7 linked regions of the Homo sapiens genome follow. The protein of the gene in region 1 purifies or fractionates together with the protein of each later gene. This does not show direct contact. Each region holds a gene or a part of one and is shown in the gene's direction. Other genes may lie near its edges.

The links.
Region 2: the proteins of FOXN1 (region 1) and SATB2 purify together in Homo sapiens (affinity purification with mass spectrometry; one large-scale study listed by BioGRID and IntAct). This does not show direct contact.
Region 3: the proteins of FOXN1 (region 1) and TXNDC5 purify together in Homo sapiens (affinity purification with mass spectrometry; one large-scale study listed by BioGRID and IntAct). This does not show direct contact.
Region 4: the proteins of FOXN1 (region 1) and SIM2 purify together in Homo sapiens (affinity purification with mass spectrometry; one large-scale study listed by BioGRID and IntAct). This does not show direct contact.
Region 5: the proteins of FOXN1 (region 1) and NFIX purify together in Homo sapiens (affinity purification with mass spectrometry; one large-scale study listed by BioGRID and IntAct). This does not show direct contact.
Region 6: the proteins of FOXN1 (region 1) and CUX1 purify together in Homo sapiens (affinity purification with mass spectrometry, with the first as the bait; one large-scale study listed by BioGRID). This does not show direct contact.
Region 7: the proteins of FOXN1 (region 1) and SATB1 purify together in Homo sapiens (affinity purification with mass spectrometry; one large-scale study listed by BioGRID and IntAct). This does not show direct contact.

What each region holds. Positions count from the first base shown.
Region 1 is NC_000017.11:28,504,935-28,509,147, forward strand, and holds the start of FOXN1 (forkhead box protein N1), read left to right. Parts: upstream 1-1,413; 5' UTR 1,414-1,509; intron 1,510-4,213. UniProt on the Homo sapiens protein: Transcriptional regulator which regulates the development, differentiation, and function of thymic epithelial cells (TECs) both in the prenatal and postnatal thymus.
Region 2 is NC_000002.12:199,346,440-199,349,939, reverse strand, and holds part of SATB2 (DNA-binding protein SATB2), read left to right. Parts: intron 1-766; coding exon 767-1,239; intron 1,240-3,500. UniProt on the Homo sapiens protein: Binds to DNA, at nuclear matrix- or scaffold-associated regions. Thought to recognize the sugar-phosphate structure of double-stranded DNA.
Region 3 is NC_000006.12:7,881,017-7,883,902, reverse strand, and holds the end of TXNDC5 (thioredoxin domain-containing protein 5 isoform 1 precursor), read left to right. Parts: intron 1-636; coding exon 637-759; 3' UTR 760-2,386; downstream 2,387-2,886. UniProt on the Homo sapiens protein: Protein disulfide isomerase of the endoplasmic reticulum lumen involved in the formation of disulfide bonds in proteins. Can reduce insulin disulfide bonds.
Region 4 is NC_000021.9:36,737,115-36,740,614, forward strand, and holds part of SIM2 (single-minded homolog 2 long isoform), read left to right. Parts: intron 1-3,500. UniProt on the Homo sapiens protein: Transcription factor that may be a master gene of CNS development in cooperation with Arnt. It may have pleiotropic effects in the tissues expressed during development.
Region 5 is NC_000019.10:13,078,975-13,082,474, forward strand, and holds part of NFIX (nuclear factor 1 X-type), read left to right. Parts: intron 1-2,705; coding exon 2,706-2,881; intron 2,882-3,500.
Region 6 is NC_000007.14:102,202,126-102,205,625, forward strand, and holds part of CUX1 (Homeobox protein cut-like 1), read left to right. Parts: coding exon 1-79; intron 80-2,265; coding exon 2,266-2,431; intron 2,432-2,988; coding exon 2,989-3,045; intron 3,046-3,500. UniProt on the Homo sapiens protein: May be involved in intra-Golgi retrograde transport.
Region 7 is NC_000003.12:18,345,340-18,348,839, reverse strand, and holds the end of SATB1 (DNA-binding protein SATB1), read left to right. Parts: 3' UTR 1-3,463; downstream 3,464-3,500. UniProt on the Homo sapiens protein: Crucial silencing factor contributing to the initiation of X inactivation mediated by Xist RNA that occurs during embryogenesis and in lymphoma.

The sequences.
Region 1 (4,213 bases):
GCATGCTCCACACTTGTGCCAGATGACCACCACTGTGCCCCGGCCAGGGTTGATATTACCTCTCTCCTTGGAATGAGATAGTCACTGGGGAAGAGCTGACTTGTCCATACCCTCAGGCCAGAAGCCAAATCCCAGAACTTGCTGGGCAGCAGTGCTGGTACTAGGTCCTTAGAGCCTTTAGCTCCAGGAAGAGACACAAGTGGGCTTAGAGGCCAGTGCAAGGGTCAGGGAGATGGAGGAGGGAAAGAATGACCAGGGACAGGAGACAAGGGGATGGAGGGCAAAGAAGATGAAAAGGAAGCAGAGAGAAGGAGGTGAGGACAGGGTCTGGGGGAACAGCAGAGAAAGCTGTCAGGGAGCAGGGACAGGCTCCAGGCCTGAGTCCAGCTGGGACCAGGGAAGCCAATTCCTAGGGCTTCACCCTCAACATGAACTCTAAGGGGCCAGAGACCAGGGCAACAGCCACTCAGGTTTCTGTTTCTATCCTCCAAATAATGAAGAGTAGCCTGGGATGAAGACACAGAACCAGGGAGCCCCCATCTCCACCCCCACAGACACCCACATGCTCACACAGGACTAGGTTGCTGACCCACAGCAGAGACGTGTGCACAGACATGAGCATGTCAACACACGGACGACACACGGGCCTGGGTCCGGGGACACAGAGACACAGACACAGGGGAAGACATGCAGACACACGCCCACCCAGGAGACAGATGTACAGACCCAGGGAGAGATGCAGACAGACTCGCATGTATCTGCCCCTGAGGGAGAGGGAGATGGGAGTCACCAGCACATGCTCCAGTGGGTGCACACGCCCCCACCCACAAGGAGACACCCTCGAGGTGCTGCGGGAGCTGTGGAGAGACAGACAGATGGCCGGCCCCATGGACAGACAGTTCCCAGCAAATCTGTGCTAATGCTTGGCCCTTGAAGGGCCCAACCTGTCCATGCCGTGCCTCAGAGAACCCTGGGCTGCCACCCAGCGCTGTTCCCCAGAACCTCATGAGTGGGCTCCATGAGCATACATGTGGCGGCCAGGCTCTCCTGACACACGTGCATGCTCCAACAGGCCTGTGCCCCACCTGTGGGTGGGGGGGCGACATCTCCCTTCTGGAGTGCAGGCGGGGGCCACGGGACAACCCCCTCCTCTACAAGCCACAGGCTGTGCGCACTGGCAGGGACAGGGGAGGGGGCCTGGGCTAGCTCAGGAGGAGGGAGGGGTTGGGGGGCCAGGGTGCGGCTGGGGCGGGCACGGGAGCCGGTACCTGTCAAACAAGAGCCAAGGAGCAAACTAGCTTCTTAGTCACCTTTCTCTTCTCCCCGTTTTGGCGCAGCCCCTCCGGGCAAGGGGAAGCTGATATCATAATTATTGGCTCACCTGGCAGCTGCCTCCCCTCACCTGATGTCAGCACAGACACAGGACGGCCGAGCTGACGGACTGACAGACGGACAGAGCTCCTGGCCCCCCAGACCCGGGCCCCCACGCCGACCTGCTTCACTGAGCAGGTAAGAGGAGCCCCGGCCCAAGTCAGCCGTGGAGGCCAGCAGGGCCGGGCTGGGGCACGGGGAGGGCGTTCGCCTTTTTAACGGGGCTCAGGAGTGACGGGGAGCACCCAGGTTCTCACTGCAGCTCAAGGGAGACTCAGAATTCGGGTGAGTGCCTGGAGGCCAAGGGGCACCCCTTCCCCCACCTCCCCCTCCAGTTCCTTTTCTAGGTTGTCCAACTTTAATCCCTCTTGCTGTGGTGTGGGTCTCATTCTGGTGTGTGCTGGATTTTGTGTGTGTCTCTGTGTGTTGGAGATGCGCTCACCCACCCTGTGCTGGGAGGAAATGAGGACTCAAAAGTGTTAGATCTGGAAAACTAGAGCTGAAAGGCAGGGGGCCAAGTTCTCCATGTAGTGGTTTTCCAGGTGAAGAAGGGAGAGCCCAGCTCTGGGAGCTGGGGAGCACCAAGGGTGTGTGCAGATCAAGGAATTGCTCAACATCTCCACGCAGCCTGGGCTGGGGTCTAGATGCCTGGGCCCATGCAGAGGCCTGGGTTGCAGAAAGGAGATGGTGCACCTTGTGGCGAAGCAGACAGGTGGCAAACAGGTGCTGTGGCCATGAGTTGATGCTGGGCTTAGGGCAGAGTCGCCTCCTATCCCCAGCTCCATTTCTCTCCCGCAAGACCCCTAAGGCAGAGTCCTGGTGAGCAGAGCTGGGCCAGGCAGGGAGCCCTGAGGCCTTTGGGGCCTAGAGTTGGGGGCGTGGGAAGTGAAGGCCCTTAGGGAAGTGGCCGAAGCAGCAGGAAGCCCCTGCCAGCTCCCCCGACTCCTCCCCACCCACTACCCGCTCAGATAAGGTTCTGGCATTCCCCGTGGAGTCCCCCAGGCCCTCCCTAAATATCCAAAGAAGCCCGTTGGATGAAGAGTAGACTCTAGCAAGTGGGCGTGTTTGCCTCTTCTCTCGGCACCTACAGGCATGGGGGATATGTCTGGATGTGCTTTGTGGCAATGCACAACTGGTCAGTGGGAAGGGACCCGGGCGGAGGGGCTCATCTTGGGAAGTCATCCTATCCATCCCCTGCCCCTATGCCAGTCATTGCCCACATCGGGCAGGGCTGCCCCTCCTAGTTTTCCTAATCCCTGAAGGAGAAAATCTGGTCAGTTTCCTCACAATCATGAAGTCCTTCCTGGAGCCTCTCTGAAGTCTTTACTGCTGCAGGGTCCAGCTCTGCTTGCCCGGTAGCCTTCTTCCTCCCGCACTGAGGAACACTAGTTCCTCGGATCCGAGGGCGGCGTTGCACTGCAGTCCTGTCCCCACCGGGCTTGGCTCAGAACCTTTTACCATCTTGCTCATTCCCTGACCACAAGACACAGGCAGTACAAGGGCACCCCGAGTGGATGGGGGAAGGGGCAGGGCCTCCTATCCTGGTCCCTTTCTCTTGTGGCTCTGTGAGGGGTCCAGGGTGAGCCAGGCAGGGACAGAGCCAGGCTGAGTCCTGGAGAGGGGCAGACGGGGTGAGGGCTGCCCCAGGTTGGGGATCCTCAAAGGCGAAGGAGCCACAGGGAGAGGCGCATGTCCTCCCGGCTCCCCGCCCAGCCCCGCCCCGCCCGCGCTGCCTGTGCGAGCTCAGCTCCCGGCTCCAGGGCCTGCCGAGGCACGCTGCACCCCCAGGCCCGGCGCCTCACTCACTCCCAGAGCCAGAAACCTGTTCTCCCGGGAATGCCAGGGAGTTCTCAGAGGACTTTATTTCCCAGGGGCTCAGGGAGCCCCAGAATCTTCTGGACCAGTGGGTCCTGGGAAACTAGAGAAAAATTAGGGGGCTTAGGACCCCTCCCTGCTCCCCAGCTTTGTCTCATCCACGCACTGACGCCACATTGCCTCCAACCAACAGCCGTCTTCACCGTGAGAAGGCTTCATCGCGAGAAGGCTTAGGAAAGTTAAAGACAAGGGGGAAAGCCCACTGGTGACATGCACCTTCTGTCATGTGCCATCCGTTGCCTCAGGGAAAGCCTTCCTTTCCCCCCATCCCCCAGACAGTCCCATCTGGCCTCTAAGAAAGCAACATATCGCCTCTTTCCTTGGACTCTTCACCTTCTCTAGCTAGGAAGTCCTTCCTGATGTCTAACCTCTCCCTTTCTGGCTTGAGTTGACACCTGGTCTTCATGGACCAGCAGAACCCCCATTGCCTGCACAGGGCCCAGGCACATAGGCAGAGACTGTTCTAAGTCACAATGAAATGCCCTGGTTGCTTGGGCGCTGGCAGGGACAGAAAGGCCCCACTCTCGCTGCGCCTCTTATTCTCTCTGACTCCACATTCTGACGAAGTTGCGGTCCACTTCTGCCTGCCTCCCCATCTGCCCATAACAAAAGGATGGAGGGGACCGAGGTCCTGCAGGTATGCCCTCCCCTCTGTCCTTCCAAATCACAGCCTGCCATCCCTGCTGTGGCTGGCAGAGGGGAGTTCAGGAAACCAGGATTGGCTTCTGCAGCAGGAGTGACTGACAGAGTTCAGAGAAAGTTCTCAGCATTTTAGGTTGAGTTTGACTGGACTATGTGACCACAGGAGGTGGTTTCCTGAGTGGAGAGGCAACCATTGATCTGGGGTGGGTGGGGTTGGGCTGGCAACATGCCCAGGAGCTGGGGAAGGATGAGAGGACCTCCAGGAGCTGGGGAAAGACAAGATGACCTCTGGGAGAGGGCCTCCCAGAAGCACGAACCACATGGT
Region 2 (3,500 bases), on another chromosome or scaffold:
ACTTGCCTTATGCTTGTATATATATGATACTTACTTTTCCCTTTCAAAGTTATTCTTTTAATCTTTATTAAAGCACAATATAATGTAATAAAGCAGATAACCTGAGGAGAACTTCATTTAATGGCAAGTTGAGGTGATGTTATTAATTTTGTGATTTTTTTTCTTATCTGAGTGCATAGCACAATGTTTAAAATATCAATTTCTTAAAGAAACATTTCTATAAAAAAGATAGCAAGTGAGTCAATAAATGGATATACTATGTGGCAGACATTTTTAAATGAACATTTCCATAGCTGTATAATAATATTTATGTGAGCTTTTTACTAGAAGGTAGCACTTAATTTGGCAGGAGATGTTATCCTTGTCATTTCCTGATAACCATTAACTACATACTACAGAAGATAGGAACAGCTGGTGCTTTTATAACAAAGGTTGATTGGGGAGATGATAGAGCTTGGGGGATCTAAGAGGATTTAGAATGGTCAGTGGTTTCTGTCTTGGCTATTTAAAGAAATGCTTACTTTTAAGAATTTTAACTAATTGAAGTGGCAAATAATTTTACTTTCTTTCATATGTTCCATGAAAAAAATCTATTGTAACATTTAGCAGAAAAGAATATCACTTTTATGCTGGAGCTTCCATCGTTGTATGAAAAAATGTTTATATTATTAACATGCCAAAAGTATGATAATTCAGTTCTACATATATTAGCAATAAATTGTACCAATGAAAATAATGATTAATTATCACTTTTATCTCTTAACAGTGGAAAGAGTGGAACGAGAAAACCTTTCAGACTATTGTGTTCTGGGCCAGCGTCCAATGCATTTACCAAATATGAACCAGCTGGCATCCCTGGGGAAAACCAACGAACAGTCTCCTCACAGCCAAATTCACCACAGTACTCCAATCCGAAACCAAGTGCCCGCATTACAGCCCATCATGAGCCCTGGTCTTCTTTCTCCCCAGCTTAGTCCACAACTTGTAAGGCAACAAATAGCCATGGCCCATCTGATAAACCAACAGATTGCCGTTAGCCGGCTCCTGGCTCACCAGCATCCTCAAGCCATCAACCAGCAGTTCCTGAACCATCCACCCATCCCCAGAGCAGTTAAGCCAGAGCCAACCAACTCTTCCGTGGAAGTCTCTCCAGATATCTACCAGCAAGTCAGAGATGAGCTGAAGAGGGCCAGTGTGTCCCAAGCTGTCTTTGCAAGAGTGGCATTCAACCGCACACAGGTACAATTAGCATTAAACACTGTAATTAACAGTAATACTGGGGACAGAATTGAGATAGGTTATAATTATTTTTATCTCTTTAAAAAGCTTTATGGATCTCAGGACATAGAATTAGATTAATTAATAATCCTTAGTTAATGAAACGCTATTACCATTGATCCATGCATGACCATGATTAATTAACTAATTGATTAATTTTGATGAGGTAATGGACATCTTTGAACCCAACATGCAACTCAGGACCCCAAATGTTACTAATGACTTGGGTATGTACTCTCTCATCCTCTCCATTTACTGTTTGCAGATGTAACCCTGATCTTGAATTTTGTGATTATCAGTCTCTTGCCATTTTTTAAAACAAATTATAAAACTATGCATGCCCAGACAATCTATTTTTTTCCCTTGGTTTTGAACGTTATAAAAGAAATAAAATTATGTTTTATAATTTTATAAGTAAAGTTTTATTTAAAAATTTATAAAAATCCTTCAAAACATAAAAGTTAGATTTAAGATATTGATAAAATGATAATGGATAGTTTACTTTTATTTTTAATGTTTGAGAGAATTATATGCCAATTATAACACTAAATGTTGAAAATGTAAACAGTTAATTCACACGTCTTATTTTTATTGAGGGTGCTTATATGTAAGACATTCTTTTCTGCTAGTAGTTCTTAAACTGGAGTGTGCATCAGAATCACCTGGAGGGCTGTGAAACACAGACTGCTGGGCCTCATCCCATAGTTTCTGATTGAGTAAGTCTGAGGTTGGACTCAGAAATGGACATTTCTAACAAGATCCCAGGTGATTATGATGGTACTGATCCGGGGCCGCATGTTGAGAAAAACTTACCTAGCCCTTATATGAGTAAGAACAAAGCAGATGTGCATAATCTCGGGGAGCTAACGATCTAGTGGTGAAAACCAGGTAACCAGATAATTAGAGTAAAATGTGAAGTGTTATGAGTAATGTTGGAGAGTGTAAGCAATAGTTGTGGTGGAGGTTCATGGTGAGCTGGAGGTGAGGAATACTTCCAGGAGAATGAATATGGTAAGCCTTCAAGAAAACAGTAGATTAAAATTTCAGCACCCTCGTAAATGCAAGGCAGGAAGCTAAGCTCTATGTGGGTGCAAAGAGGAAAAAGATAATGGGCAAGCACATATGTAAACAACACTCTAGAGTATTAGGTTGTCAATGGGTTAGACCTTGAAGGATTAATAAAGTACAGCAGGCAAAGATGATGAAGAAGAAGATTATTATTTTAAGGTAAAGACATTCATAGGAAAGATGTTGAGTTAAAAAATGCAGGAATAATTTGAAGACATAAAACAACTGATTTCTGAGAAAAACCCTGTGAACGTACAGAATGTAGGAATGCTTTCATTTATCTGATACCTGTTCAGAGACACATGATAACACACGCTGTAGATGGACCTTACAAATGAAAGAAAGCATGCTGGATTGAAACCTCAATAATTTGGAAAATACAGGAATGTTTCCAAATTTAATGATTACTTCAGAAGTTAAGGGGCTGGGCACAGTGGCTCATGTCTGTAGTCCTAGCACTTTGGGAGGCCAAGGTGGGCGGATCACTTGAGGTCAGGAGTTCAAGACCAGCCTGGGCAAGATGGTAAAACACCATCTCTACTAAAACAGAACAAAACAAAAAAATTAGCTGGGCGTGGTGATGCGTGCCTGTAGTCTCAGCTACTCAGGAGGCTGAGGCAGAAGAATCCCTTGAACCCAGGAGGCGGAGGCTGCAGTGAGCCGAGATCATGCCACTGCACTCCAGCCTGAGTGAGAGTGAAACTCCATCTCAAAAAAAAAAAAAAAAAAAAAAAAGTTAAGTGAAAACTCTCACTGGGGAGAAATCTGATAAATGTTGGTAAATTGGATTGCCTGATGCAAGTTAACACTCAAAAAATGCACCTAAGTGAAATGTTATACCAGTTATAAATATTTTATGTTTATCAGTGGTTCATTGTTAAAGAGGGTCTGTTTACTTTTGGTTTCCACGTCTCTTGCAAGAAAACATTGAGGTAAGAATTTTGTAGATACTCTTTAAGCAATACTGCGTGAGTTAAATAAATAGCGTTTTTGTTAAGTCAGTTAATACATTTTTTCTCTCTTTATTCGAAAGTGTGTTGGATCTCTGGTTGAATTGAAATGTATTTCTATTATGTAGGCGATTTAAATTTTTATTAGTTTTGAAATTGTCGTATGATTAATGAGTCATTGAAAAATGAGTTTTTGTGCTGGGT
Region 3 (2,886 bases), on another chromosome or scaffold:
GGTCCTGTGCTTGGGTTAACTACTGCCTTCATTCCAAGCTGTTAGCACAGTCTGATGGCCTGGAAGATTTGTCATTTTTTTTCTTCTTTGTTATTCAGACACTTTTGGAGCCCTTTAGATGGAGAATAGACGTAACCCAGACATAGTTTCCTTATCATTAAAAGATACCAGTTGTTTTTTGTGCCCTAAAATTCTTAGAAACGAGTTGCCACTGAAACATGTATCCTCAAGAGGATCTTGCTCTCATGGTCTGGTCTGCAGACCACCAGGGCATCGCCAGGGAGGTCATTGGAAATGCAGACTCCCAGGCCTGCTCAATCCAAATCTGCACCTTCAGCAGATCCGCAGGTGATCGTGTGCACAGTAAAGACTGAAAGCGTCTGCTTTAGGGTAAAGTCGTTCCTTTGAGGCTGATCTTTAATGATGTCATTTTGAATTCAGAAGTGAACACACAGCCCCACGGCTGTGCTTTCTAAACAGTAGTCTGCTCCTGTTTTAATGGAATATACACCTTTAAAAATTAGCCACAGAATTTTTCCAGCCACAACGGTAGGAGTGTATCTGGTTTTATTTAGGAAGCAATTTGCATGTGATCTGGACCGCTGGTTTGCAAACTTTTTTCTTTTTTGTTTTAAGGTACGAGGCTACCCCACGTTATTGCTTTTCCGAGGAGGGAAGAAAGTCAGTGAGCACAGTGGAGGCAGAGACCTTGACTCGTTACACCGCTTTGTCCTGAGCCAAGCGAAAGACGAACTTTAGGAACACAGTTGGAGGTCACCTCTCCTGCCCAGCTCCCGCACCCTGCGTTTAGGAGTTCAGTCCCACAGAGGCCACTGGGTTCCCAGTGGTGGCTGTTCAGAAAGCAGAACATACTAAGCGTGAGGTATCTTCTTTGTGTGTGTGTTTTCCAAGCCAACACACTCTACAGATTCTTTATTAAGTTAAGTTTCTCTAAGTAAATGTGTAACTCATGGTCACTGTGTAAACATTTTCAGTGGCGATATATCCCCTTTGACCTTCTCTTGATGAAATTTACATGGTTTCCTTTGAGACTAAAATAGCGTTGAGGGAAATGAAATTGCTGGACTATTTGTGGCTCCTGAGTTGAGTGATTTTGGTGAAAGAAAGCACATCCAAAGCATAGTTTACCTGCCCACGAGTTCTGGAAAGGTGGCCTTGTGGCAGTATTGACGTTCCTCTGATCTTAAGGTCACAGTTGACTCAATACTGTGTTGGTCCGTAGCATGGAGCAGATTGAAATGCAAAAACCCACACCTCTGGAAGATACCTTCACGGCCGCTGCTGGAGCTTCTGTTGCTGTGAATACTTCTCTCAGTGTGAGAGGTTAGCCGTGATGAAAGCAGCGTTACTTCTGACCGTGCCTGAGTAAGAGAATGCTGATGCCATAACTTTATGTGTCGATACTTGTCAAATCAGTTACTGTTCAGGGGATCCTTCTGTTTCTCACGGGGTGAAACATGTCTTTAGTTCCTCATGTTAACACGAAGCCAGAGCCCACATGAACTGTTGGATGTCTTCCTTAGAAAGGGTAGGCATGGAAAATTCCACGAGGCTCATTCTCAGTATCTCATTAACTCATTGAAAGATTCCAGTTGTATTTGTCACCTGGGGTGACAAGACCAGACAGGCTTTCCCAGGCCTGGGTATCCAGGGAGGCTCTGCAGCCCTGCTGAAGGGCCCTAACTAGAGTTCTAGAGTTTCTGATTCTGTTTCTCAGTAGTCCTTTTAGAGGCTTGCTATACTTGGTCTGCTTCAAGGAGGTCGACCTTCTAATGTATGAAGAATGGGATGCATTTGATCTCAAGACCAAAGACAGATGTCAGTGGGCTGCTCTGGCCCTGGTGTGCACGGCTGTGGCAGCTGTTGATGCCAGTGTCCTCTAACTCATGCTGTCCTTGTGATTAAACACCTCTATCTCCCTTGGGAATAAGCACATACAGGCTTAAGCTCTAAGATAGATAGGTGTTTGTCCTTTTACCATCGAGCTACTTCCCATAATAACCACTTTGCATCCAACACTCTTCACCCACCTCCCATACGCAAGGGGATGTGGATACTTGGCCCAAAGTAACTGGTGGTAGGAATCTTAGAAACAAGACCACTTATACTGTCTGTCTGAGGCAGAAGATAACAGCAGCATCTCGACCAGCCTCTGCCTTAAAGGAAATCTTTATTAATCACGTATGGTTCACAGATAATTCTTTTTTTAAAAAAACCCAACCTCCTAGAGAAGCACAACTGTCAAGAGTCTTGTACACACAACTTCAGCTTTGCATCACGAGTCTTGTATTCCAAGAAAATCAAAGTGGTACAATTTGTTTGTTTACACTATGATACTTTCTAAATAAACTCTTTTTTTTTAAAAGTCTGGTCTTTCCTTCAATGTTACAGCAAAACAGATATAAAATAGACAATAAATTATAGTTTATATTTACAAAAAAAGCTGTAAGTGCAAACAGTTGTAGATTATAAATGTATTATTTAATCAGTTTAGTATGAAATTGCCTTCCCAGTACATGATTGTGAAAAAGACATTTAGAAAATATTCTAAAATTTAATCTGAGCCTCACTTTCTACAAGGGAAATCATGATTTCCGTTCATAAACAGCATGCTCATCCCCCTAACACCATTCTTATAAGCTGGGCACCCTCATTTTATTTTCTTCGTTGGTTCTAACCCTGTGGCGTGGTATGCTGTATAGTAAAAAGGCAGAGAACCACTTTACTGAAAAGGTACTAGAGCCGGCAGTCCAGAAGTTAATGTGCTGGTCAAAGAACCGTTCTGGTAAAGAAGAGGTGAGCATTGCCTTCACGTGTTACACGGTTACACACCCCTTGTAGCCTCACCTCAGTGTAATCAGTCTA
Region 4 (3,500 bases), on another chromosome or scaffold:
GATGGGGTCTTGCTATGTTGCCCAGGCTGGGCTTAAGCTCCTGTGTTCAAGTGATCCTCCCATCTTGACCTCCCAAAGTGTTGGGATTACAGGCATGAGCCACCATACCCGGCCCCAGAACATTCTGTAAAGAAAAGTGAACACGGGATCATCATAAATGGAACCACTGTGACCCTCCCACCCCACGCCTCACCCACCACCTGAGGTGGCTGATTAAAGGCACCATGCTCCAGCCTGGCCTCAGGAAAGCCGAGCTCTGCCTCCCCGCTTTCTTTGTTTCATGTTTGGGAGACTTTTTCTTGTATGTAGGGGGAGCTGGCAAAGGCTTGTGATCTGTTGACCCAGACCCTCAGGGGGGGCTGAGCACAGCCTGGTCCATAGGTGGAGAAGGGATCAGTGTCAGTAAACCTGACAGTTTGTGTCATGGGACACTGGGCTGTCCATGGTTTGGAAGAACCGTGATGTCCACATGGCTATTCTTCCAAGGTTGTTGAGAATTTCACCCGGCTCTCTAGGTAGGCTCCTGCCCAGAATGGGCCAAGCCCAGACCACAAAGAGAACACAGGCCATGTGCAGCTATTAAAACATTTCAATGTCCACTTTGGGAGGCCAAGGCGGGCGGGTCACTTGGGGTCAGGAGTTTGAGACCAGCCTGGCCAACATGGTGAAACCCCGTCTCTACTAAACAATACAAAACTTAGCCGGGCGTGGTGGCATTCGCCTGTAATCCCAGCTATTCAGGAGTCTGAGGCAGGGAGAATCTCTTGAACCCAGGAGACGGAGGTTGCAGTGAGCCGAGATTGTACCACTGCACTCCAGCCTGGGCAAAAGAGCAAGACCCTGTCTCAAAAAAAAAAAAAAAAAAAAAGCAAAAAAAAAGCAAAAAGAAAAAAGCATGGGGCCATATTCCTAAGGGCTTGAATAGATTTTGAGGTTGAAGAGCTTAGCGAGCACTAGTCCTCTTGAAATCCGTGGATGGATCCTCAGTCTGAGCCTGCTGCATCTCTTGGTTATTTTGGACCATAAACAAATTGGCCAAGTCTCCCTTAAAAGGTGAGCCCACCTCACCCCCATACGTATTATTCAATGTATTACTTTGAAAGTAATAGCAGCCAGATGCGGTGGCTCACGCCTGTAATCCCAGAACTTTGGGAGGCCAAGGCAGGCAGATCATGAGGTCAGGAGTTAGAGACCAGCCTGGCCAACATAGTGAAACCCCGTCTCTACTAAACTACAAAAAATTAGCCGGGTGTGGTCGTGGGTGCCTGTAATCCCAGCTACTCGGGAGGCTGAGGCAGGAGAATCACTTGAACCTGGGAGGCGGAGGTTGCAGTGAGCTGAGCTCATGCCACTGCACTCCAGCCTGGGTGGCAAAGCCAAGACTCCGTCTCCAAAAAAAAAGTAATGGCAAAAATCGCAAGTACTTCTATACCAACCTAATAGCTATAGAGAACTTTCCAGAGGCCGCTGCTCCCTCCTCCCACAGCTGCCACTTTGAGGACACCTGGGCTGGACTCCAGCTGTGCCCTCAAGCTCTGTTGGCCCCGGTTTCCTGGTGCTGCCCACCTCCCACCTCCCACTGTTGTAGTGGGGGTAGAATGAGGCAATCCTGTGAAATGAGCTGGAAGTAGACACCATGTATCTTTTCATTAGAGAAGCAAACCCCCAAAGGAGAAGCATTGTCAGGCTTCTCTCTTTGCCATGGCCTTTGCCTATACCCTTGAGCAGTGATCTGAGTCGGCTGAGATGCAGATGTTAAGCCTGGGCAGAAAAGCGCTGCTCTCTGCATGGTCCGGGAGAGACCCCTCTCCAGCCGGTGGCATGCTCGTTACGCAACACTGCCTCATGTCCCCAGGTTCATCCTGACGGGGTGGTGGGGCTTGATGGAGACTGGATTCCTGCCTCCCAACCCCCACAATCTTCTCTCCCATGTAAAAAACAAAACCATTTCATTCTGGTTAAACCTCCTCCTCGTTGGAAATTTAGAAAGTCAAGGAAAGCTGAAAAGAAGAAAGTGAAAATTATCTGTCATTTTCAGTCAGATAAAAGTTAATATGTATTGAGCCCTTCAGCTGTGTCTGCCAGTGTTCTAAATCCTCAAATAGATCATCTAATCTTTCAACAACCATATGAAGTAAGGACTGATTATCCTTTTTTTATAAATGAGGAAATTGAGTCACAGGGGGGTTGGTAGCTAGTCTAGGATCACACAGTTTGTTGGAGGGGGTAGTGTATGCACGTGCCCACTTTTTCATAATTAGGGTTATACTTTACACATTTCTGAATCTTGTCTTTTCTTCTGTTAACATTGTATCACACATTTCCCATAATATAACAATTTCTTATTAATCATCATTTTAATGGCTGCATAGTTTGCCATAATGTATTTACTCTTTTCCCTACCGTTGAAGAGTTAAGTCTCTCCCCACCCCTTTTCCCTGAATTTTCAGCAATATTGCAATGAAACCCTTTGTAGGTAAGTCTGTGTTTGCACACACAGACCTGCTCACAATTTCCATAGGATCAATTCCTAGAAGTGAGATCAGTGTGTCAGAGGGTGTGAGCTATCAGACTGCTTTCCACCAACTCATCCTTCCATCACACATGAAAATGCCTCTCACTGGGCCAGGCGCCGTGGCTCACACCTGCAATGGCTGCATAGTTTGCCATAATGGCAAACTATGGGAGGGCAAGGTAGGCGGACCACTTGAGGTCAGGAGTTTGAGACCAGCCTGGCCAACCTGGCAAAACTGGGGAGGCTGAGGCAGGAGAATTGCTTGAACCCAGGAGGCAGGTTTCAGTGAGATCATGCCACTGCACTCCAGCCTGAGCAACACAGAGAGACTCTGTCTCAAAAAAAAAAAAAGAGAAAGAAGAGAAGAAAGAAAGAAAGAGAGAAAGAAAGAAAGAAAGAAAGAAAGAAAGAAAGAAAGAAAGAAAGAAAGAGAAAATGCCACTCACCATAGATTAGCCGGTGTCACCTGTTGGCCTTTCATTTTTTTTTTTTTTTAGATAAAATTCACCTTTCTCACCATTTTCAGTGTTTTTTAGTTATATTCACAGTGTTGAACAACTATCACCTTTAATTCCAGAACGTTTTCATCATCCCAAAAGGAGCCTGTCACCCCAGTCCCCCTCGTGCTTCAGCCCCTGGCACCCACTCATTTGTTTTTGGACTCTGTGGATGTGCCTATTCTGGAAGTTTCATGTAAAGGGAATCATACAATGTTTGTTTCTATTTTAATGTCTGTTGATCTGATGGATGGATCTGCCTTTGAGTTAAACAAGGGAGTTGGGCATTTGTTCATCATTTTGCCCATTATATTTATTCTTTGATCTTTGCCTATATTGCTTTTAGGGTCTTTGTGTTTTTATCAATCTGTACGAACCCCCTATATATTAAGGTGAATAACTCCGTGCAGCATTTTCTTTTGCACCAAAATATTTTGATGTGGATGAGAAAGAGCCATCTGCAAGGTGAAAAGGAACCGTAAAGGGCC
Region 5 (3,500 bases), on another chromosome or scaffold:
ACTCCTCACGTGCATGGGTGCTACATACAACACAAGCCTGTCCCGAGTCCTCCCCAACTCTGGCCCAGTTCTCCTTTTGTCCTGCCAGCTGTGAGCGGGAAGGCACAGCCTTCTGCTCTGCCTTCCTGCCGGCTCCTCTCTCCCAGCTCCTGGCTGAGCCCAGGCTCTGGATTTTTGCCAGCATGAGCCCAGGTTGATGTGGGGCCTGGATGGAGAAGAGTACTCCTAAGGAGCCCAGGCTCCTGCGGCAAGTAGCTACCTTGTCTGGGCCTCCCTGCCGCTTTCTAGAAAGGAAGGGCTGGGTCTAGGGGACAGGTGGTACCTGGGCTGCTCCCCAGGAAAAGGAACTGCCCACTGCCGTGGGGCTGCTCTCTGACTTCAGTGTCCCAGTTGAGAAGGTGCTCAGGATGAGAACACCTAGATCGCCCTGAGGAGATAGGATCAGGCAGGAGGCTGTGGGAGCTGAGACCTCAGCCCTGTCACTCCTTCACTTTCTTCTTCCCTCTCTGGGCACCCACCTGGCAGCAAGAGGCCTGGACTTTTTCTGGATATGGCCCTATGTCCGCCTGCCATCTCCTGGGCTCGTATGTAGGACACAGAAAATGAGGAGGTTTACCTCCTGGCTTCCTCCTTGGGGCCTCCTGGCTGGGAGCCCAGAGGCAGCCGGTGCTGGGGCAGGGTGTGGTGGCCGCGAGGTGGGGGTGGGGAGCCCAGGCCCTCTACACAGGCAGCAGGAGGGCGCAGGCCTGGCTCCTCCGGCTCCACCTCAGCTTTTATGAACTCCAGAGAGAAGCCAAGTTTCCTCAGCCCCCTAATGAAACCGAGAGCAAGAGCGAGCTGATTGGAAACAGACGGGAGGAGGAAGAGCTGGGGCCTGCTCTGGGTTGGGAATTGCGTGTGCAAGGACGCGTATGTGAGGACACGTGTGTGAGTGATGAGGCTGAGCACATGAGAACACCGCCTAGGTGGCGGTGGCTGGGTGCACACCAGCTCGCACTCAGGAGATGTGTGTGCATATGTCAGACGGCCATCCTGAGCAGATGCTGGCTTTGTCTTCATCCAGAGCCCCAGGGAACCCTCTGCCTCCTCTTGTCCCCCACCCAGTCTCCCACCCAGGGCCTGAATTAAGGCAGGGCTAGTGAGGCACTCACCTTAGGTGCAGAGTGTCAGCAAGTATCAAAAACTCAGTCATCAAGATAAATAATATTTTAATGGAATATGTTTTAAAATCCAAACTATTGCAAAAAAAAGGGTATGGTAAGCAAACACCAGTTTTTTTGTTTGTTTTTCTTTTTCTTTTTTCAAAGACAGTTTCCTGCTCTATTACTCAGGCTGAATGCAGTGGCACGATTATAGCTCACTGAAGCCTTGAACTCCCAGACTCAAGTGATCCCTCCTGTGTGCCACCCTGGCTAATTTTTAAATGTTTGTTGTAGAGACGGGGTCTTGTTATGTTTCCCAGGCTGACCTCCAACTCCTGGATCAAGTGATCCTCCCACCTTGGCCTCCCAAAGCACTGGGATTACAGGTATGAGCCACAGCACTCAGCCATGTCTTTGTTTAAAATGGTTTAAAATGTTGAGGCTGGGCACAGTGGCTCATGCTTGTAATCCCTGTACTTTGGGAGGCCAAGGCAGGAAGACTGCTTGAGGCCAGGAGTTCGAGGCTGCAGCGAGCTGTGATCATGCCACTGCACTACAGCCTGGATGACAGGGCGAGATCCTGTCTCTATTTAACAGATACTGGCTGGGCGCGGTGTCTCACGCCTGTAATCCCAGCACTTTGGGAGGCTGAGGTGGGCGGATCACAAGGTCAGGAGATCGAGACCATTCTGGCTAACACGGTGAAACCCTGTCTCTACTAAAAATACAAAAAATTAGCCGGGCGTGGTGGTGGGCGCCTGTAGTCCCAGCTACTCGGGAGGCTGAGGCAGGAGAATGGCGTGAACCCGGGAGGCAGAGCTTGCAGTGAGCTGAGATCGCACCACTGCACTCCAGCCTGGGTGAGAGAGCGAGACTCAGTCTCAAAAAAAAAAATTCTTTAGGCTGGGCACAGTGGCTCATGCCTGTAATCCCAGCACTTTGGGAGGCCAAGGCAGGCAGATCACTTGAGCCCAGGAGTTTGAGATTAACCAGGACAATATGGCAAAATCTCATCTCTAGAAAAAAAAAAAAGCAAAAATCTACCAGGCCTGGTGGCGTGCACCTGTAGTGCTGGTTACTTGGGGGGCTGAGGTGGGAGGATTGCATGAGCCCAGGAGGATTGCTTGCCGTGATCCGTGTTTGTGCCACTGCACTCCAGTCTGGATGACAGAGCGAGACCCTGTCTCAAATAATAATAATAACACTTTTTTAAAAAGCCAAATAAAATAAAGACAAGATCCTACCCTGCCTCATCTGCCTCATCCTAATCTCCCAGCGCTGGTTGTGATCAAACTTTATTTACAAAAACAAATGGCTGGCCTTTGGACCCTAGTTTGCCTATTTGATTATTATTATTATTATTATTTTTGTATTGCATTAAAACATCATGGATCCTGATGACTGACTTTTTTGTGCCGCCTTAACTTTTGTGCCTGTGGCGGCTGCCTTACCTGCTCAGGATCCTCAGGACCCTCTGACCGGCAGCTCCCCTCCTCTCCTGTCCCTCCCACTGGCTGCCTCCTTGGCCCTGACGCCCTTTTTTCCCTGCCCACGTGCATGCAGGGAGCCCCCGGGCCACAGCATCAGCCCTGCACTTCCCCTCCACGTCCATCATCCAGCAGTCGAGCCCGTATTTCACGCACCCGACCATCCGCTACCACCACCACCACGGGCAGGACTCACTGAAGGAGTTTGTGCAGTTTGTGTGCTCGGATGGCTCGGGCCAGGCCACCGGACAGGTGAGTCCAGAGGGCCCCAGGAGCCCGGCTACAGCCTCATCTCCACATCTATCTGTCTGTCTCAGGGCTCACAGGGAGAGGGCCCAAAAGCCAGGAGCCCACCTGGGGCTGGAGCAGCAGGGAGCTGGTAGTACCAAACGCCTCGATTTTCTGGGTCTGGGGACGGGGGTCTGTGTATTATGCCAGGGCTTGTCTATCATGGTCCGGAGAGGTGGGGGCAGCATCTGGGCCCCCTTGCTCAGTCAGGCTCCTTGCCTTTCCCATGGTCCTTGCCCCCTCAGCAGGAGTGAACTCATGATGATCCAACCCGGATCTGGGCCCTGACCTCCCAGCGCTCCTCTTAAACCTCGGGGCTGCAAGGATTTGCTAGATTCTAGACCAGGGTTTCCCCAGTATCAGCACTGTTGACATTTGGGGCTGTTTATTCACTATTGTGTGAGACCATCCAGTGCTCTGTAGGATGTTGAGCAATATCCCTGGCCTCCACCTGCTAGATGCCAGGAGCACCTCCTCCTCCCCAGTCTTGATAATAAAAAAAAGTCTCCAGATTTCAGTGTGCCCAGGAGGGGAAGACCATCCCTAGTGAGGAGCACTGTGTCAAGGGAAAGCCCCGATCCAC
Region 6 (3,500 bases), on another chromosome or scaffold:
GGACACCATCGAGCTCACCCGGCAGGTTAAGGAAAAGCTGGCCAAGAACGGCATCTGCCAGAGAATCTTCGGGGAGAAGGTAAGGGATCTGCTCTGGGGGCTTTGGTTCTCCCATCTCTTCTCCTTGCTGAGGACCAAGTATCTATCCCGCAGCCTGTGACCCTCACCCATTTCAATTCACCCAAGAGCAGAGCGTAAGGCATCCTCTGCTCCCAGACTTCCAAGGTGCGGCTGGTGAACATTGCAGCCCCGATCCCATTTGCCGAGCCCCGACTGCAGCCAGGTTCTAGGCTCAGCCTTTCACCTGCATGCTGCCCTTTCGACCCCTCACTTGGCGCTGGGAAGTGGATGGTAAAATCCCCAATTGACAGGGAAGGACACCAAGGCTTGGGGACGTTAACTACTTGCCCCAAGCTGACCGGCAGCCGAGTCCACATCCAGCTTTTGCTGCCAAGGGGAGCTGAGAGGCACCCCTGCAGGCTTCCTTGGCCAAAAAAAATCCCATCTGATCACACAGAGGGACCACCAGTACGCAGAGAGCCAAAAGGGACTTACTAGAAAAAGCTGCAGAGAGCATTATTGTTCCTTTCTGTGTAACTCTTGGATATTGTTCAGTCAGAGAGGTCAAGCAACCTGCCCGGGGACACACAGCTTGGGGATGGCCCAAGCAGGGTGGCCCGTGTTTCCCTATCATCCTTCCCTGGCTCAGGAAAGTGTAATCGTGCATGGACGAGCTTCTAGGCCTTTCTGTTCTTGGCACTTTCCTGGTCACTGAGATTCAGGAGAATGAGGGTTAACCGTGCCTGCCAAATCTAAAATAAACATCATGTCCTAGTATCATTTTATTTATTTATTTTTTGAGATGGCGTCTCACTCTGTCGCCCATGCTAGAGTGCAGTGACGCTATCTCGGCTCACTGCAACCTCTGCCTCCTGGGTTCAAGCGATTCTCCTGCTTCAGCCTCCTGAGTAGCTGGGATTACGAGTGCCCACCACCACACCCAGCTAATTTTTCTATTTTTAGTCGAGTCAGGGTTTCACCATGTTGGCCAGGCTGGTCTCCTGACCTCAAGTGATCTGCCTGCCTTGGCCTCCCAACCCCCTACCATTTTAGATTAAATAACGGAGTGCTGAATAGAAGGAGAAGCACCCCTCTCCCCTAAAAGGCACCTTCCTGAGGGAGCACGTGGCTGGATCAGCAGGGGACAAATCCCACCCCCTCCCCTGCCAAGCCAGGGTCCCTGCATGGCGCCGTCCCCGCACTCCCCACCCCGCCTTCCACTCAGTGTTTGCCGTATGCTGTGCTGTGAATCCCGGTGGTGTCCGATGGCGAACTTTGCCCTGATTTTGCAAAAGGTGAAGGGGGGCGACTAGAAATGAGGATGAGTATTTCAAGTCCCTTGAGATTTCTAGTTCAGTGTTGTAAAAATACCATTTGAGAACATTGAAATAGACATTCGTGCTCATGCCTTAAATTTAGCAGAGACTTAATAACATTGAACTTGTTTGGCCCGTGAGTGCAGTTTTATTCTGGAACTTGAGAACTTTTCAAAAGAGTGATCGGATGCAGCCCCTAAATATCCCAGGGCGGCATCTGTGTCCTGTGGGGGGTGTTTGTGCCTATACATATGTATGGCCATATGGGAGCGTCAGAAAACTCGGGTGTGTACACGCAACTCGGCAATCATCTGCGGCGGAATGTCACTCCCAGGCCGGCTCCCCAGGTCCCACCAGCTCACCTCTGGGCCCCCACCTTTGATCAGGATGTGGTCAGAACAAGCAGACCTTTCTAAATGCTGGCCTGGCTCAGCGTTTGCAGAGGACACCAGCTTCGCCAGTCCCACCGGCACCCACTGCCCCACCTCTGGAGGGATCTTGTCCCTGGAACCTTAGCCTTTCCCGGTGCCACCAAGTGAAGAGCAAGGTGCTTGTACACACCTCCTCCGCGGGGTGTCAGGGTGACAGCCCTGCCATCTTGGCAGGATCAAGACCCTGGGATGAGACCCTCTTCCCTCCCTGGGAGCTGAGAGCTGTGGCTGTAACCATGGCTCACCCGAAAGTCCCCCTGTGCCGGGGTCTCAGCCACCGTTGATCTTTAAATGCATATTCCCTGCCCACAAGCTGTCACCGCCACCAGGCCGTGGTTCTGTGCTCAGAAGTCAGCCCTAGACGCGCCCTCTGCGTGGTGGGTGTGCATTGCAGCAGCATCTGTGGTGTCATGCTAATAGCCAGGCACTGATGGCCTGTGTGTTCGGTGCCACTCCAGGTGCTGGGCCTGTCCCAGGGCAGCGTCAGCGACATGCTGTCCCGACCGAAGCCATGGAGCAAGCTGACGCAGAAAGGCCGAGAACCCTTCATCCGGATGCAGCTCTGGCTGAACGGCGAGCTAGGCCAGGGTGTTCTACCCGTCCAGGGCCAGCAGCAAGGGCCAGGTAATGGGGGTCCTGCCACAGGAGAGGGGCTGCCCCCCCATAGCAAGGACCTGGTCACAGCAGCCCCACCTGGGCTATGCAGAGAGGGAGGAGGGAACTCCGCCCCAGGAGGTGGCCAACCACACTCCCCACCGTGGGCTGGTGCTGGGGGACAGAACCGTCCCCTTCCTCCACAACCTGTTGCCGTGGGACTGACTTCAGTGTTTAGGAGAGATCATGCCTGTCTAATTTTATAAGCAGCAGAAAATGAGTTACCAATTTAAAAAATGCTGTTTATACATAAATACAGGTAAAAGTCAAGTAGCTGAATCAGGGAGTCAGGAAAGAAAGTCAGCCAAAGGTACAAAAGTGGAAGATGTCACAGGCGAAACCTTTCACCTGCTCCCGGCCCGGGGGCCTGGCCTTGCAACAGCAGCGCCTCCCCGGCCCGTGGGTCCCCATGCCCGCCCCTCCCCAGGAGGAATGGGAAGCCTCCCCGGGCCTTGCCACATTCAGTTAGGAAGCTTTAAGCCCTGGGCCGCGTTCCTTCCTTTAATTATAACCTTTTTCTACTTTAGTCCTCCACTCCGTGACATCGCTCCAGGACCCGCTGCAGCAGGGCTGTGTGAGCTCAGGTAAGCAGCCAGTTTCTGTTGCTTTTGCATGAAATGTCTCACTGCCTTTTCTGTTGTCCCGTGCTGTGGTCTGTCCCGGCGAGACTCCGAGGGACCGCACATTCTGGATTTGGGGAGCTGAAATATGGCATCCTATCTGCAAACGGGGTCCCTCTCTGTGTCAGTTTCTAATGGAGAGCGAGCTGACAGTGCATGGAGGGACTCTGCCAAGATTTGCACGCCCACTGTCATCCTTTGTCGGCCCAGAGCCTTGTGTTCAGGGCTGGGGTCTAAGTCGGAGACAGATTCCCCACTCAGGGGGCTTACCGTCTGATAGGAAGGGATAAAGCACGGGCACACGTCCCTCTCCTGGTGGGGTCATGTCGGGGGACTTCTTATCTAACCGGAAGACATCCAGGCAGCCTCTGAGCAAGAAAATGGGGAGCTTTGAGCTTGAGCAGTGGGAAAGGTAGGGT
Region 7 (3,500 bases), on another chromosome or scaffold:
ACAAGCATTATACCTTCTGTGATTATGATTTCCTCTCCTATAATTATTTCTGTAGCACTCCACACTGATCTTTGGAAACTTGCCCCTTATTTAAAAAAAAAAAAGAAAAAAAAGAGTTTGTTACTCTATTGTATGTTACAAAAGAACTATAGACTGTGGAATGCAGTTTAAAGATGACATATGCCAACAAATGCCTTGTATTATATGGCACTGCCGTAATTCAAATTTGTTTTTATTTTGGAAATAAAAGTTCACTGTACTTTTTTTTCATTCTCATTGTTACATGATTTTTTAAAAAAAGGAAAAGAAAATGTGAAACACAATTTAGTCCTCATTATTTATTTGTAGATCCTGCAGCATCATGTTGTAATTAATTTTTTGGAAGTTTCCGTTAAATGTAATATTGCTTCTCTTGTTACCATACTGATTCTTTTCTATTTATAAATGTATTTTGATGGGCAGTAAAACAAAGTGTCTTAAAAGTTTTAAATAGAGAAAATGTGCTTTACACAGTTGCCTATAAAAAGTGCTCTATGTTATCCAAGCAATTCATACTATAAGCTTCACTCTTATTGTTGTATGCAATTTTTACTATCATGCAAATAAGCTTAGGTAAATAAAACTAATAGATCACCTTAGAAAATTATGCAATTAATGTGAAAATAATTGATGTTTGCAATGTGTCTTCCTTTGGTTTACAATCAATTTTAAAGCTACATCTGTATAAAATTTCTGTATAAAGGTGTATTTCTTTTTTATGAGTTTATGGCTATGAAAACAGCTATTTTGTTACAGCTGGCTGTTTTTATAAGTGTATCACAATTTTCTTTATGCAGAAATGTTCTGACTAGGAGTGGTTATTGACTGTAACTACACAATTAAAATTGTTTGTATCGTATGACATGGTAGGGTTTGTCTGCTTATGTGAAGTAACTAAAGGAGTCAAAGGATGGCCCTCTCATTTAGGTGCATGTTAATAACTTGTTATTTCACTGATTTTAAAAAGAGCAATTGACAAGTTACTTGAAACACTGTAAATTTAAATCACAAACACATGCTCATTTTTAAATAGGTATGAAATTTCACAATGAAAATAACCTGTTTGGTTAACATTTTGCTTAATAAGTAGAGATAGGATGGTCAAAAGACTCTCCGACAAAAACAAATCCAGTCTCTAGCAGTTATGTTGTTAGAATGGATTCATCTGTGCTTATTTCACAATACTTCATTTATAGCAATGCTTTTCCTTAAGCTAATGTATAAATATTTCTAAAGGCCATTAATAGTAACAAAATAAGTAGGGGAAAAAATGGACCTTCTGTATAAAAACCCCTTAGCTTTTTTTTTTCACAAGTTATAAGTGGAATAAGTTAATAACTGAGCTCGTAAGTGTATCTCATAACTATAAGAGCTACATGAAGAAAATAGGAATAACACACCTGGTATTTAAACACAATCTTCAAAATTCTTGCAACATTAAACATAGTAAAATGCCAGAATATAAAATGAGGTGTGCTAATGGTCACAGGATTGAGGCCAGCATTACAGTTTGGGGTGATTTTTCTTTTATTTGCTCCCTCACTTTGTTTCCTAGATGCTAGTAGGGGTATCTGGGTTGCTTGAGATACCATTTTGCAATTGCCCCTTCTCTTTCTGCCTACCATCTTCTCAGGCCCTGATGAGCTTATTGGTAGGCAACTGGGCTGCTTTAGTGTTGAACTTGTACTTTAGAAACTGAAGTGGAATCATTGAAAACTTTCAATAAAGCTTTAAAGTTCCATTTACTTTTGAAGCACAGCTAAGCTCCTCTGAAGGCAGCTGGTTTGTTGCAAACTTAAAATTGTACTGAAAAGTTGCCACTTTTTATTTAGTAAGAAAACAAACATTCTGGCTCACTAGAGTTCAGAAAAGTAATAATTTGAGCCAAAGGAATTTGAATTAAGAAAATAGAAACTAGGTTTCATGTATTTAAAAAATAGGAAATAAAATAGAAACTCAAATGCCATGAAGTTATCTTCCTCTTCCTTATATCCCCTAAGTTTGGGTTGCAAATAACTTTCCAATTCCTAATAACCTAAATTATTTTGAAATAGTGTTTTCAGTGAAATGATGAATGTTTGAATGTTTGTTTGGTAATCAACATAACAATGCTAACAAAATTCCCACTTAGATTTTTTAACTTTTAAAAGTCAGCGTGGTTTTGATAATTTGATATTTTAAATGCCCACACATACACACACACACACACACACACACACACAAGCACATGTTAATAAACTGATAGGATGGAGTGAGCAAAATTGTTTTCAGGGAAGATGGCACATTTTAGAAAAGACTTGCCCAGATGATCTTCCATATTGCTCCCCCAATGTCATTTATCGCTCATGCCAATCCTCCTCTTGTTACCTGTGGCTATGGTAAAATTCCTTTAACAAGCTTCATTGTGTCCAAGTATTTCAGAGACTTTTAAAAGCTGGGCATGACATAGCGTTTTGTGCTGTTAAGACCTTAGCAGAGTCAGGTAGTTTACGGGTAATATTCAACCTTGTGCATCTGAATCTGTCATGGATTCCCTTCACTCAGCACTTTGCCACTAATTTGTATTACACTCTGTGGCCATATAATACTTGCACATTATGCAAAAAAAAATGTTGATAGTATCTCCTTGCCACACAATATGCAGAGTTGACAACCTTTGAAAACCAAGGTAACTAATATGTATGTCCTAGTTGTGTGGCGCTTGGTAACAAAGTCTGTACATATTATGTATAAAATGTGTATTGGTTAGCATTTAGTACTAAGAAATTCTGAGTTTAAAATAAGTGATTTTTTTCAAAGTAGCGATATCTATATCTGTGTTTATCTAAAAATACTGGCTTGAATAGAAAACATTCTCAGATGATTCAAGATTGAGTAAAAATGAGAATCCCATACATTCCATTATTAAATTCTGCCCTATTCCCAATTGTTAGCATCTGGCTGATATTAAGGTCTTTGATTGTCACAATATTCTCAATAAATGAGACATTCTGAACTGCCTGGTGATATTTTCAAAAAGAGCAATTAAAATGTGTATTCCCTCTAATACAGCTGATAGAACTGTTGTGTTAAAGCAAGTTGGAAATTTGCATGATAGTGTGGAAACCAATGGAGGTCCAAAATATTAATCATATCTAAAATATCAGAAAATATCAATACTAGTCTTCTTTATGCATATTTTTGACTTTTTAAGAGGGCTTATGAATTCAATGTTTCTTCTGAGGCAATCCTTTTAATGTAAATACTAAATACTTGCATGTCTTTTGACAAAGGCTAAACTACAATCTATTAATATGCACATTTTTGATAAAATATAAAGTACCCTAATTAAAGAAATTGTGGTAGAAGGTGTATGTCCTGAATACTATACCTGTTTAACAATACCAAATGTTAAATAAAAATAGTTTGAAATTAATGTTTAAAAGATGAGCCACATTTTTAAGACTTTCTTACATTACCCT